Linked DNA regions of Homo sapiens: region 2 is linked to region 1. Evidence: fine-mapped expression QTL. Tissue or cell type: whole blood. Region 1 holds a variant in brackets; the other region holds the start of a gene. All regions are shown on one strand. Distances are between the middles of the regions.

What was found. PIP is the estimated chance that this variant, and not a neighbour inherited with it, causes the effect.
Region 2: CFDP1 starts here. The variant in region 1 is fine-mapped to the expression of CFDP1 in whole blood (TOPMed, PIP above 0.99).

What each region holds. Positions count from the first base shown.
Region 1 is chr16:75,318,042-75,325,699 of GRCh38, forward strand. All of the region lies in intron 5 of CFDP1 (craniofacial development protein 1), which reads right to left. Among named protein-coding and RNA genes, the nearest start is that of BCAR1, 70 kb to the left of the region's middle. RefSeq lists an enhancer at 1,592-1,761. The variant T/C (reference allele first, on the strand shown) is at 4,641.
Region 2 is chr16:75,429,367-75,437,024 of GRCh38, forward strand. It overlaps CFDP1 (craniofacial development protein 1), which reads right to left and starts at 4,137. Exons shown (of 7, transcript NM_006324.3): 1 at 3,923-4,137. The coding sequence starts at 3,986. LOC124903723 (tigger transposable element-derived protein 1-like) reads left to right here and starts at 5,838. Exons shown (of 1, transcript XM_047435019.1): 1 at 5,838-6,854. The coding sequence starts at 5,936. The coding sequence ends at 6,733. RefSeq lists silencers at 2,117-2,316, 3,573-3,812 and enhancers at 4,123-4,632, 4,176-4,743.

The DNA of each region.
Region 1 (7,658 bases):
ACTTGGGAGGCAGAGGTTGCAGTGTGCCGAGATCGCGCCACTGCACTCCAGCGCGCCACTGCACTCCAGCCTGGGTGACAGAGTGAGACTCCGTATCACAAAAAAAAGAAAAAGGTCAATGACCCTTCTCAAGGAGAACTGTGCTCTGCTGTGACTGTGACTGGTCTGTGCTGGTCTGACGGCTGGAGCCACACACTCTCATGAACATTCCCCTGATCGTTCCCATCAGGGACAACATGGCCAGGCAAATAGCACATCTCGCCAACTAAGTCAACAGGACAAAGCACTGGGCAGAAGATCAATATGCCTCAGTGGTGTGTTGTTTGGCTGACTGTTGATTAGGGAGTTGGCATGCTTTCTTTCTTTCTTTTTTTTTTTTTTTGAGATGAAGTCTCACTCTGTCGCCCAGGCTGGAGTGCAGTGGCACAGTCTCGGCTCACTGCAACCTCCGCCTCCTGGGTTCACGCCATTCTCCTGCCTCAGCCTCCCCAGCAGCTGGGACTACAGGTGCATGCTGCCATGCCTAGCTAATTTTTGTATTTTTAGTAGAGACTGGGTTTCACCGTGTTAGCCAGGATGGTCTCGATCTCCTGACCTTGTGATCCGCCCGCCTTGGCCTCCCAAAGTGCTGGGATTACAGGCGTGAGCCACTGCGCCCGGCCGGCATGCTTTCTTAAATATCTGCATCCTGCTTTTAGACTTTCAGCTTTCTTTTTTCTCCCAGGGATGCATGTCTCTGTCTCTTCATAAAAAAATCTGAGGATATTAACATAAATTTTAAATTCTTGGGCACCTCTCAGGTTGAGACTAGGCTAAAGTTTTGGGATACAGGGGTGTCCTCAGTCAAATCAGAAATAATTCCTTACATCATAGACACCTCTCTTAAAACAAGTCATGCCTGCCCCTTTCTAGAAATGAGAAGGCACATTAAGCACATAGCTTTAAATGAAACTCATAGGAGCCGAACACATTTTGCAAAATTACTCCCTCTCAATACCAAACTTACTTTATTTATTTATTTTTTTGAGATGAAGTTTCTGTTGCCAGACTGGAGTGCAGTGGAGCGATCTCGGCTCACTGCAACCTCTGCCTCCCGGGTTCAAGTGATTCTCCAGCCTCAGACTCCTGAGTAGCTGGGATTACAGGCACATGCCACCATGCCCAGCTAATTTTTGTATTTTTAGTAGAGATGGGGTTTCACCATGTTGGCCAGGATGGTCTTGATCTCTTGACCTTATAATCCACCTACCTCGGCCTCCCAAAGTGCTGGGATTACAGGTGTGAGCCACCACGCCCAGCCCCAAACTTCTAACTGCTACTAAATAAGCATGCAAAATTCCAAATGAGGAGGAGATAGACATTGGACACAGCTGTGATCCTTGACACCTCAAAGTTACATCTGGGGTTGGGGGGGAACGTGCTTTATGGTCGTTGCATTACACGAGACTGAAGTGGTGAAGGTCATTTTTCAGCACTTAGCGCTCCTGCTAGGGTCCTGACTCCCAAATCTACTTTCTCAGTGGCATCCGCAACATCGTTTGCTCACTCAGTTGCCAGGGTAGCAGCTCTGGCCTCCTAGAGGCCACAATTCTACTAATATCAATGGGAAAACTTAATGAGGCTCAGATCCCAACCTGCCCCTCTTCCTCCAGAGGCAGCTTCCACTTCTCCTCACAAAGCTGGGATATGGCATCATCAGCGTTCCCCCTGTGGTGCCACCCCTCACAACCCAGGATTTAAAGAGCCCTTAGGAAGCAATCATCTATACAAGGGTGATCACAAGAATGGGGTTACTTAAGCATGAGCCCTAAGTGTCACTTTGCTAAGGCAATACAATGGATTTCAACAAAGAAATATTCGTTTCCACGTAGTTTGATACTGAAAGCAGAAAACTTTCTTTTTACTGCATGCAGGAAATGGTTTTCATAGAGGCTAACCACAGCTGAGCCATCTGTAAACCACAACATTGTTTCTCTTTAACAAATGGAAGATTTTTACCCACGGTATCACTGACCATCAAAAAGAATTCCCATCCTCCATCTCTAGAGCAAGAGAAAACGGTAAGTAGAGTTTCTTTCCTTAATCTGCTAGCCAGGGGTTGCTAAAACAGCCTTTTCATTCAGAAATGTAGTTTGTCCTCCAAGGTTCATCCCATCCCTACTGCTAGGAGATGTATGAACCCTTAAACAAGTCCAGTTTCTTTGCATTCTGAGACCCCCTCGGAGCATGCGCTTTTATGTGACCATGACTCACACTGGGTCATAATGTAAAACGTGTAACTATGACTGAAGGCCAAAAAGTTTGAAAAAGATGCTTTAGCGTTAACTGGCTGGCAAACGAAGAAGGTCTGCTGAAACAAAGTTGGCTGCTCTGCCAACAGATTGTTTGAAGGAAAACTAGTTAAAAAAAAAAGAAAAAAATCAAGTGCAATCAACTAAAGTAGGGCAGACCCTTCCATTCTTTGATTTTTCCCTGTGTATTAGCCATTTGCTTTGGGAAACTTGGCATCACGATCTCCCTGCTGTGAGAGCAAGGCCTCTGACCCAGGGCTCCTCACCCCAGACTGTGAGAGTGTGTGATTGACACCCTCTCCTGGGGGACGAGTGGCTTTGCTATGGCCTTCCAGTCACCGTGAGGCTCAGCTGGTGACTCTGCAAGGATTGCATGAGTGTGTTCATTGTTCTCACTGTTCAGATGAAGGAAAGGGGCTCAGAATATGGGACATTGATGGTCTCATGTGAATTAAACAACTGAAATGAGGGGGACTCATGCAAATAAAAGAACAAAATCCAAAAACATGACCTGAGTCACACCAAGGAATAGTTTCCCTCTAAGAATGAAGAGAAACAAGAACCCAAATATAAGCTACTAAATGTACTTGTACTCTGGAAGAATGCTGGAAAATCTGATGACTTACTATTTCTTATTCTCAGCTAGTATTTTTTTTTTAAGAGATGGGATCTTGCTGGTTTTGAACTCCTGGGCTCAAGTGAACCTCCTGCCTCAGCTTCCTGAGTAGCTGGGAGTCACAGGCACACGCCATCATGCCTTGCTCAGCTAACAGCTAATACTTTAATATTTTAATAAATTATTATTATTATTTTTACAAGACAAGATCTCACTATGTTGTTCAGCCTGATCCTGAACTCCTGGGCTCAAGGGATCCTCCTACCTCGGCATTCCAAAGTGCTGGAATTACAGGCGTGAGCCACAGTGCCCAGCCTGGCTAATACTTTTTATAATAGCTTTACTGAGATGTAATCCACATTCTAAAGATTTCACCTATTTAAAATGGTACAACTCAGTGGTTTTTAGTATATCCATTACCACAATCTCATTTTAGAAAATTGCCACTCCTGCCAAAAAGCCCCTTATATCCAGTAGCAGTTACTCTTCATTCCCCTCACCAGCTCTTGGCAACTACTAATCTACTTTCTGCCTCAACAGATTTACCTATCTCTCAGGTAATACTTTAAACCAAGCTTGTCCAACCTGCCTTATTCTGTTATTGTTTTGTTTTGTTTTGGGCTTTTACCAGCCTGAAGCCATGTTTTTCAGTTTCTGCCTCTAGTGATAAGCGGAAAAGAGGGGTGAGGAAGGGGCTTTATGGGCCCAACCAGAAACAGAAACTAAGAACTCATGACTGTATTCTCTCCCTTGGACACCCCTGCTTTAAACCATAAATTTAAGATTATATATAAGCATCCAGAAGAAACAACACATCTCTCAGTTGGTATCTATCACAGCCTCCTATAGGAAACACATTTAAACTTTCCTAATTTGTTTTCTTTTTCTTTTTCGAGACCAAGTCTTGCTTTGTCGCCCAGGCTGGAGTGCAGTCGTGCGATCTTGGCTCACGGCAAGCTCCACTTCCCAGGTTCATGCCATTCTCCTGCCTCAGCCTCCCGAGTAGCTGGGACTACAGGCGCCCGCCACCATACCCGGCTAATTTTTCTGTAATTTTAGTAGAGACGGGGTTTCACCGTGTTAGCCAGGATGGTCTCGATCTCCTGACCTTGTGATCCACCCGCCTCGGCCTCCCAAAGTGCTGGGGTTACAGGCGTGAGCCACCGCGCCCAGCCTATTAAACTTTCCTAATTTGTTTTCTACATGATGGTCATGCATACATTTTGTAAGAAGAATCAGAAATCTAGTCTTTACACAGGAATATTAGAATATCTGGGCATTGCTTGTAAAGTGAAGTCCCAGATATCACCAACACTATTTCGGATCTGTGTTTTTAAAGCACTTGGGTACAGTGGCTTTGCAGTCAGTGTAGAAACCTGTCCCTCCCACTTAATAAATTTTTATTTATAGTCATGTGTTGCTTATGTTCTGAGAAATGTGTTAGGTGATTTCATTGTTGTGCCCAACATCACAGAGTGTACTTACACAAACCTAGATAGTATAGCCTACTACAGGCTTACATTGTGTGGTAAAGTTTATTGCTCCTAGGCTACAAATCTGTATAGCATGTTACTGTACTAAGTACTGTAGGCAACTGTAACAGAATGGTAAGCATCTATGTCTAAACACATCTAGACCTAGAAAAGGTACAGTAAAAATATGGTACAGTTGAGCATCCTAAACCCAAAAATCTGAAATCTAAAATGTTCCAAAATCCAAAATATTTTGAGCAC[T/C]GACATGACACTCAAAGGAGCATTTCGAATTTTGAATTTCCAGATTTGGGGTGCTCAACCACTAAGTAGAATACAAATATTAAAAAAAAAAAAAATCCCAAATCGGAAACACTTCTGGTCCCATGCATTTTGGGTAAGGGATACTTAACCTGTGTATAAAAGATAAAAAAAGGTACAGCTGTATAGGAAGTTTACCATGAATGGTGGAACCCGCAGGACTGGAAGTTGCTCTGGGTGAGTCAGTGAGTGAGTGGTGAGTGAATGTGACGGCCAAGGACATTACTGCACACTACTGTGGATTTTATAACCACTGTACACTTAGGCTACAATACATTTATTTAGAAAATTTTTTTTTCTTCAATAAAAATTTAACCTTAGCTTACTGTAACTTTATAAACTTTTTAATCTTTTAAAACTTTTTGACTGTTTTTTAGTAATGCTTAGCTTAAAACATAGCACAGCTGTAGAAAAACTTTCTTTATACCCTGTTTCTGTAAGGTTTTTTTCTATTTTAAAATGTTTTCACTGTTTTTACTTTTTAACGTTAAAAAAAAAAAAACTAAGACAAACACACACATTAGTCCAGGCCTACACAGGGTCAGGATCATCAATATCACTGTCTTTGACTTCCTTATTTTGTCCCATTGGAAAGTCTTCAAGAGCAACGTGTCTGGAGCTGCCATCTCCTATGACAACAATGCTTTCTTATGGAATCCTTCCTGAAGGACCTGCCTGAGGCTGTTTTACTTAACTTTTTTTTTTTTTTTAACAAGTAGAAGGAATACACTCTAAAATAACAATTTAAAGTATACTATAGGGCTGGGTACAGTGGCTCACGCCTGTAATCCCAGCACTTGTGAAGGCCGAGGCAGGTGGATCACCTGAGGCCAGGAGTTCAAGACCAGCCTGACTAACATGGTGAAACCCGATCTCTACTGAAAATACAAATTTGCCGGGCCTGGTGGAGCGTGCCTGTAATCCCAGCTACTCCAGAGGCTGAGGCAGGAGAACTGCTTGAATCCAGGAGGTAGAGGTTGCAGTGAGCCGAGATCGTGCCATTGCACTCCAGCCTGGGCAACAAGAGCGAAGCTCTGTCTCAAAAAAAAAAAAAAAAGTATACTATACATACATAAAACAGTAACATAGCTGTTTATTCTCTTTTATATGACTGGCAGCATGGTAGGTTTGTTTACACCAGCATCACTGTGAACACACGAGTGGTGTGTGACTGTATTTATTTTTACTCTGGGCAAGTTAATTTCTCTGAGTCTCAAGTAAGTAACCAATTAGTAAAATGAAGATAATAAGAACTACCTTGCAGGGTAATGATTAAATGAGATATTCATCAACTCAGCCCTTATCGTTGAGTGCCTTCAGTGTGCCAGACTCTTTTTTGGCCACTGGAGATAGACAGATTTCTTACCCTCATTTAATTTATTCACAAGATAAAGATACACAAACAAGCAATTACATTAGGAGAAAACCATTACACAGGAAGTGCAGTAGAGCATAAGAGTCTGAGATGGGGAAAGCTATAGAGAGGGTGGGGGAGGTGTCTGAGAGTTGAAGGATGAGAAAGAATTTGCCAGGGGGACGAGCTGGGATAGAGAAGTCCACAACGAGGCAACAGGCACTGAGATGTGTGTGAATGCACTTAGCATAATGCCTGGTGCACAGCAGATCATCAATACCTCCTGTTGTCCTCACTCTTATCCTCTTGTGTTATGAAAAAAACTCACTCTAGAATCCAGAAAGAAATTTTAAAAATTGTTGTTGCTGGCTGGGCGCGGTGGCTCATGCCTGTAATCCCGGAACTTTAGGAGGTCGAGGTAGGTGGGTCACCTGAGGTCAGGAGTTTGAGACCAGCCTGGCCAACATGGTGAAACTCCGTCTCTACTAAAAATACAAAAATTAGCCGGGAGTGGTGGCAGGCTCCTGGTAATCTCAGCTACTCGGGAGTCTGAGGCAGGAGAATCACTTGAACCTGGGAGGTGGAGGTTGCAGTGAGTCGAGATCACACCATTGCACTCCAGCCTGGGCTACAGAGTGAGACTTTGTCTTAAAAAAAAAAAAAAAAAAATTGCTGCTGCTAGGAAAGATTAGTGGAGCTGGGACTCAGAAGTTGCTTGTTCTTTTTTCGAGGCTAAGTCATCTTTGGCAGCAAAGTGTATTTTAAATTTTGGCGGTTTCTTTCCCCACAAACTTTTGATTTTGAGAAATTTCAAGCCAAGAAACGTTGGTCTCCTTTAATTTAGAACAGTCCCCTTACCTGTAGAATGGCCTGCTCTTTGGAATTGTCTGATTGTTAATTTGAGCTTCTTTGATGGCATATGGGAGTCTTCTAGCATGGAAAGTCCTTGGACTTTTCTCCATCTATACCCACTCTTTGGGTGACTGCATCCAGTCCCAAGGCTTAAATACTATTTGTATGCCTATGACCCCCAAATGTCTTACCTTCAGCCCAGACTCTAACTCCAGCTTTATATACCCAACAGCCTTGAGGGCCCTAGTCTGCTCTGCCTATAGCCTTGCACATCTTAGTTGTGGGGGACAACATCTGTCCAGTCCTTACCTCCCAGACTTCCTCTCCTAGCACAGCCCCTTGTATAGTCCCCTTCAGGCATGCATCTACCTTAGAGGCCTTGCCTCAAGCTATTCCTTCTGCCCAACGACTGTGCCCAGTTATCCCCTTGACTAACTTCCTGACCTCTTTCAAGTCTGGTCAAATCTCCATTTCTCAATGAGGCTTATGCTGATCATCCTATTTAATACTGCAAGCTTCCTCTTCATCCCACATACCTGGTCCTCCTCCCTTCCTCTGATTGTCTTTTCTCTATCACACTTAGCATTTTCTAATGTATCCCATAATTTATTTGTTATGTTTATTCTTTTACTGTCTATTTCTCTGCTGTAGTGGAAACTCCACAAGGGCTGGAACGAATGTCTATTTTGTTCACTGATATAACCTAAGCACCCGGCAGGGTGCCTGGCACTTGGTAGGCACTCAAAAAATATTTG
Region 2 (7,658 bases), 110 kb after region 1:
TTCCTGACCAGGCGTGGTGGCTCACGCCTGTAATCCCAGCAGTTTGGGAGGCTGAGGAGGGCGGATCACCTGAGGTCAGGAGTTCAATATCAGCCTGGCCAACATGGTGAAACCCCGTCTCTACTAAAAATACAAAAATTAGCTGGGTGTGGTGGTGGGCACCTGTATCCAAGCTACTTGGGAGGCTGAGGCAAGAGAATCGCTCAAACCCGGGAGGTGGAGGTTGCAGTGAGCCAAGATCACGCTACTGCACTCCAGCCTGGGCGACAAGAGCAAGACTCTATCTCTAAATAAATAAGTAAATACACTGGAGTACTCATAGAAGGTAACCAAGACAAAGTGGAGGCCAGAAGGCAAAGACTGTTTCAGAAGATTAAAGTGAAAATCTAATGAATGTAAATATTTTGGGAGATGATTTATACAATTCTAAAAGTTTAGAGTCAAATTAGCAGTGTCGACGAAAAGAGTCAAACTCTTGTCAAGTATTTGAAGAGAATTATTCTGTGCCACATATGAGTAACCACAGCCCATGATGCAGCCCTCAAGAGGTCCTGAGAGCACGCGCCCAAGGTGGTTGGGGTGCAGCTTGGTTTTATATATTTTAGGGAGGCATGAGACATCAATCAAATACATTTGAGAAATATACTGGTTTGGTCCATTAAGACAGGACAACTCGGGGTGGGAGTGCTTCCAGGCTACAGGTAAATTTAAAAATTTTCTTGTTGGCAACAGGTTGAGTTTGCCTAAACAGAAAGGAATGTCTGGGTTAAGATAGAGGTTGTGGAGACCAGAGGTTTTTTTTGTTTGTTTGTTTGTTTTTTCGAGATGGAGTCTCACTCTGTTGCCCAGGCTGGAGTGCAGTGGCGCAACCTCAGCTCACTGCAACCCCACGCCCCTGGTTCAAGCAATTCCCCTGCCCCAGCCTCCGGAGTAGCTGGGATTACAGGCACACGCCACCACACCCAGCTATTTTTTTATATCTTTAGTACAGACAGGGTTTCACTATGTTGGCCAGACTGGTCTCCAACTCCTGACCTCAGGCAATCCGCCCACCACAGCCTCCCAAAGTGCTGGGATTAAAGGTGTGAGCCACCGCACCTGGCCACTTTTTTTTTTTAAATGGAGTCTTGCTCTGTTACCCAGGCTGGAGTGCAGAAGCATGATCTTCACTCACTGCAACCCCCACCTCTTGGGTTCAAGAGATCTCGTGCCTCAGCCTCCCCAGTAGATAGGATTACAGGCGCCCGTCACCACACTTGGCTAATTTTCATATTTTCAGTAGAGATGGGGTTACACCACGTTGGCCAGGCTGGTCTTGAACTCCTGACCTCAAATGATCCACCAGCCTCTGCCTCCCTAAGTGATAGGATTATAGGCTCGAGCCACTGCTCGGCTGAGAACACAGTTTTATCATACAGATGAAGCTTTTAGCAGACAGGCTTCAGAGAGAATAGGTTGCAAAATGTTTATTATCAGACTTAAAGTCTGCATCGATGTTAATGTCAGAGACATACAATGAGGCAGGTTCAGCCCCCACTTCCCATCATGGCCCAAAACAGTCTCTCAGGTTAAATGTTAAAGAGCCCTGGCTAAGGAGGAAGTCCATTCAGATGGTTGGGGGCGCCTTAGAATTTTATTTTTGGTTTACAGCAGTTAAGTACATAGACAGCTAAGTAGCAACAAAAAATGGCAATTATTAGCACCAGAGAAAACAAGAAGTGCAGGAAAAGTAATCTGTATAACATACGGTTCAGCTGTCAACATGATGTTTATTCACACTGTCATTAGAAAAAAAAAACACTGGGCCTGGCACGGTGGCTCACGCCTGTAATCCCAGCACTCAGGGAGGCCGAGGCGGGCAGACCATTTGAGGTCAGGAGTTTGAAACAAGCCTGGCCAACATGGTGTAACTTCGTCTCTACTAAAAATACAAAAAAATCATTCGGGTGTGCTGGCGGGGACCTGTAGTCCCAGCTACTCAGGAGGCTGAGGCAAGAGAATGGCGTGAACCCGGGAGGCAGAGCTTGCAGTGAGACGAGATCCCGCTACTGCACTCCAGCCTGGGAGACAGAGCAAAACTCTTGTCTCAAAAAAAAAAAAAAAAAAAAAAAGAAAAGAAAAGAAAATCGATCGGGTGTGCTGGCGGGCGCCTGTAATCCCACCTACTTAGGAGGCTGAGGCAGAACTGCTTGAACCGGGAAGGCAGAGGCCGCATTAAGCAGAGACTGTGCCACTGCACTCCAGCCTGAGCCACAGAGCGAGACACTGTCTCGAAAGAAAAAAAAACACTGAATACTGATCTAACTAAAACTGGACACAGGTTCAACGGCAGACTACGGAGTTGGGGAGGCCCCGAAGGTGGAAGTGTTTGTGTGTGTGTTTGGGATGAGGGGAAGGAGGTCAGGGGCTACTAAAAATGATACCTACTATACATGGGTTAAATCAATAGACAACAGAAATATAATACCAAATTCAAAAGGTGGAAAGAAGTTTCTCCTGAGGAATATTAAATAAAATAGGGATGAGGGTGATGGGACTGGCTAACTTTTTTTTTTTTTTTTTTGAGACGGAGTCTCGCTCTGTCACCCAGGCTGGAGTGCAGTGGTGTGATCTCGGCTCACTGCAACCTCCACCTCCCGAGTTCAAGCGATTCTCCTGCTCCAGCCTCCTGAGGAGCTGGGACTACAGGCGCGTGCCACCATGCCCAGCTAATTTTTGTGTTTTTAGTACAGACGGGGTTTTACCATGTTGTCCAGGATGGTCTCGATCTCCAGACCTTGTGATCCACCCACCTCAGCCTCCCAAAGTGTTGGGATTACAAGCATGAGCCACCGCGCCAGGAATGGAATGGCTAGTTTTCAACGTGCCTTTTAGAAATACTTCACTAGCCGGGGCGCGGTGGCTCATGCCTGTAATCCCAGCACTTTGGGTGGCTGAGGTGGGAGGATCACTTGAGCCCACGAGTTCGAGACCAGCCTGGGCAACATAGCAAGATGCCATTTCTAAAAAAAAAAAAAAAAAAAAAAATTTAAAAAATTAGCGGGCGTGGCAGCCTGCACCTGCAGTCCCAGCTACTCCAGAGGCTGAGACGGGAGGATCGCTTGAGCCCAGGAGTCTGAGGTTGCAGTGAGCCAAGATCGCATCACTGCACTCCAGCCTAGACAACAGCAAGACCCTGTCTTTAAATAAAACAGAACAGAACAAAGTAAAACAAAGAGAATAGGGACGACTCCTGGGTTGTGTTTTGTTAGTCTGTTTGTTTCTTGTTTGTCTAGTCTTTCAACTGAAGATGTGAATGGGTGAAGATACTTTCAACGAGACGGTTTGTCTGGGGAAGACCAAGAAGGGGGAACAGAAAGATTTCTTCAGTAAGATTCATTCTCACCCCGTTCGGGTTGAGATCCCTAAGGAAAGAAAGTTCTGAGAGGAGAGGATGGGTGGACGTCACAATGAGGCAAAAAGCATCAAAGGGGGAACTTTCTATCAGAACTTTCTAACAACCAGGCGGAGAGCGGACAGCTCTATCTTGGACGGGGTGGTGGCCAGCAGCTCTCTCGGGCCAGGGCTGAAAAAAACCTCCAAGGCTCGGACTGCCGCCCCGACTTCTGAAGCAGCGGTGTCGTTCGGGGCTGACCGACGAGCGTCCCTAGCGACAAGGGGCCGTGTCCATGTGCCGGTTCCCGCGCTGCAAGAGGGGGCGGCGGCCGGAGCTGCCCAACGGGAGGGGAGCACAGAACCGCCACGCGCACACGCCTCGGGCCGGAGCGGCCGAGGATGAGGGGCCTGAGGGAGCGGACGCTCGAGAACAGGAGCCCCCCTGGACCACCTGGGCCACAGGGCAGACGCCCGCGGGGGCAGAGCGCGCCTCACGTGAGGCGTGGGGCGGGGCAATTCGCTTCTCGCCTCAGGCGGAATCGCTCACCCGACGGCACGTAGTCCTCGTCCTCCTCCGACGTAGAGAAGTCTTCGGAGTCGAATTCCTCCATGTTGCTGCCGCTCGACGCTGGTCAAACTCACAAGACCGCAGCAGCCGCCTCCAACGGCAAAGCTCTAGGGAGAGACCATAGAGCCCCGGCGGCGGCGACGGCAGCTAGGGCGGCCCCCGACAGCGCTTTGCACATGCGCAGAGAGTACTACGTGGTTGCCCTACGACACTTCCGGCCGATGCCTCCGGGCTGGCGTCCCTGAAGCCCTCGCTGGGAGCCCGAACCCGCCCGGACGCGGTGCATGCTGGAACTTGTAGTCTTCGGCGCTGCCTCGCCGCCTTAATATAATAAACCTGCTTAAATAAAATTACATATCTATGGAAATACAGGTGACCTTCATTAATCATTAATTCGTAATGCCAAATTCACTTACTTGCTAAAATGTATTTGTAACCCTAAAATCAATCATCACGGTACTGTCTGGGGTTCTTCCCGGGCATGCGCAGAGGGTGAAAATTTGGAGTTGGCGGAGGTAAGGTTCCCAGCTGAAGTTTGAACTGGGAGAAGCGCCGCCTTCTAGTCGCAGCTCCTGTGCTGTAAACAAAGAGTCCTTTCCGCAGTCTGTTTACTGACACTTTTTTTTCTGCTTTTTGTGGGTGGTTTTGCTTTCTAAAATGGCCCCCAAGCGTAGTGCTTAAGCTCTGCCCAGTGTTCCTAAGCGAAAGAAGACCGTGATGTGCCTTACGGAGAAAGTCCGCGTGTTGGATAAGCTCCAATCAGGCATGAGTTACAGTGCTGTTGGCCATGAGCTCAATGTTAACGAGTCGACAATCCGGTACATCAAGAAAAAGGAAAAGGAAATTCACCGATCTGTCCGTGAGGCCGCTCCGGATAGTGCTGAAGTGACCTCCATCGTGCGTGATGAAGCTATGACAAAGATGGAAAAGATGGAAAAGCGGCTAAATTTGTGGATTCATGAGATGTCAATCGATTAAAAAAAACATAGTGGACAGCATTGTGGTGAGGCTGAAAGCCAAAGATATCTGTGGTCACGTTACCCAGAGTCAAAGAAATGCTAAGCCCTTCTCGGCGAGTGCTGGCCGGCTCGCGCGTTTCAAAAGGCGATACGGGGTGAAAAATGTTAAACTTGCAGGTGAGGCGAGCTCTGCAGATCAGGAGGCTGCGGAAGAATTTTAAAAATACTTGCTAAGTGTTATACAGGAAAAGGGTTATGTGAAAGAGCAGGTTTTCAATGCGGATGAGACTGGCTTATTTTACAAGGATGTTGGCAAACGAACCTATATAATGCAAACGGCCTCCAAAGCCCCTGGCTTTAAATCATGCCAGGATCATGCACCCTTGTTATTGTGCGCCAATGCCAAGAGCGACTAAAGTGCAAACTCCTAATGGTGTAAAGAACCCAAAATCCACAAGCACTTAACGGGAAATACGTGAACCATCTGCCAGTCTATTGGAGGTGGAACAAAAAAGTGTGGATGATGTCTGATTGGTTCCACAACTGCTTCATCCCAGAAGCTGAACACTGTCTCCAGGGCAGAAACCTTGCCTTCAAGGGTTTTTTGTTTTGTTTTGTTTTGTTTTTTGTTTGTTTGGGTTTGTTTTGTTTTGGTTTGGTTTTGAAACGGAGTCTCGCTCTGTCGCCCAGGCTGGAGTGCAGTGGCGCAATCTCGGCTCACTGCAAGCTCCGCCTCCCGGGTTCACGTCATTCTCCTGCCTCAGCCTCCCGAGTAGCTGGGACTACAGGCGTCCACTACCACGCCTGGATAATTTTTTGTATTTTCAGTAGAGACGGGGTTTCACCGTGTTAGCCAGGATGGTCTTGATCTCCTGACCTCATGATCCGCCTGCCTCGGCCTCCCAAAGTGTTGGGATTACAGGCGTGAGCCACCGCGCCGGGCACCTTCAAGGTTTTGTTAATTTTGGATAATGCTACAATCCATTGCTGCAAAGAACTCGAAAATGCACACGCCAACATAGGAGTTCTTTTTATGCCCCCAAACACTAAGTCTCTCATCCAACCCCTCAATCGGGGCATAATAAAAGCATTCAAGGCACACTACACAAGGGAGCTTTATATGAAGGCCTGTGAGGCTCTCAGGACCAACAAGGAAACCACCATGCTGGACTATTGGAAGTCGGTCACTACATGCAACGTTATTGATTATGTCAGTACAGCCTGGGAGAGCATTGGTCAGGCTACTACCAATAACTGTTGGGAAAATGTTTGGCCAGACTGCGTGGAGAATTTTGAAGGGTTTGAAGGTGTTACAGAAAATATAAAGAACACTGTCAGAGACATAATGCATATGGCACAGCAGGTAAGTGGAGAGGGCTTTGATGACGTGAAGGAAGGAGATGTGGAGTACATTTTGGCAGAGAAGGCAGTGGAACCAACCAACGAAGACCTGGATGAGATGGCAAAAGAAGGCATTGGAGTTGATGGCCATGAAAGTCGGCCCAAGACTTCCAGAATTGTCCCTCTCACAGCGCCAAAATATCAGAATGGAGTTCTGCCTTGGAAAAAATTTTTAGCGACATGGAAGAGTGTGACCCTACGCTTGATCGAAGCCTCAAATTTAAATGGCTGGCCTCCACTGCGTTTGCCCCTTATACCGAGATGCTTAAAGATTTCAGGCAGAAAAGCCAGGCAGGCAAGGCTAATGCAATTTCTCAAGCCAGTTTGGGAGGGAAGATTGCCCACTCCTTCAACAAGTGTCAAGAGCCAGACTCCTAAGGTAGAAATGCCAGAGGTTGACCTGCCACCCTCTTCCTCTTCTGCAGAATAAATTTCACTCACCCCTCCCCTGGTTTCTGTGGGGCAAGCCAAGGTCGAGAGGTTTAACCACATTGTGCAGCTCCATCAACCGTAAGATTTTAGTTGATATTTTTATAAAACTTAGGATGCTCCATCTTTGAACTTTTTCCCTTTATTTGTATTGCTGTACTGTAGGGTATACAGTATGTGTGCAAAGTAGTGTATGTGTTTACTGTGGGAACTGTACAGTATGTTATACTGTTGACTGTATATGGGAACTATATGTGTGTACTCTGTGTGTGCCAATGAAAAGGTTGTACAGGCTGGACGCGGTGGCTCACACTTGTAATCCCAGCACTTTGGGAGGCTGAGGTGGGCGGATCACAAGGTCAGGAGTTCAAGACCATCCTGGCCAACATGGTGAAACCCTGTCTCTACTAAAAATAGAAAAATTAGCTGGGTGTGGTGGTGGGCGCCTGTAATCCCAGCTACTCAGGAGGCTGAAACAGGAAAATCGTTTGAACCTGGGGGTCGGAGGTGGCAGTGAGCCAAGACCATGCCATTGCACTCCAGCCTAGACAAAAGGGCAAGACTGACTCAAAAAAAAAAAGTAGTGCAATCTCAGTACACTAGAGTACATTACACCAAACTACTGTCATTGAAATTTTATTGTAAATACTGCAGATTATTTTTAAGAAATACATATTAAATAAGGTGTCTTTGAACAGAAACACACATAAAACAAAGTTACATACCGATCAGTTGACAAAAGTGTTGACCAGAGGTTCACAGGAACCTAACCCTGTATTTCTCCCAGGACCCATGGTTCGGTTTTTGCTAATTCAATGTTCTCGACAACTTTATAGCCATAACTACTGTGAATACAAAGAATTGACTATTCAGGAATGCAGCCATCATCCACAGGAACCCTTCAAGTTAAACCATATGGAAGTACA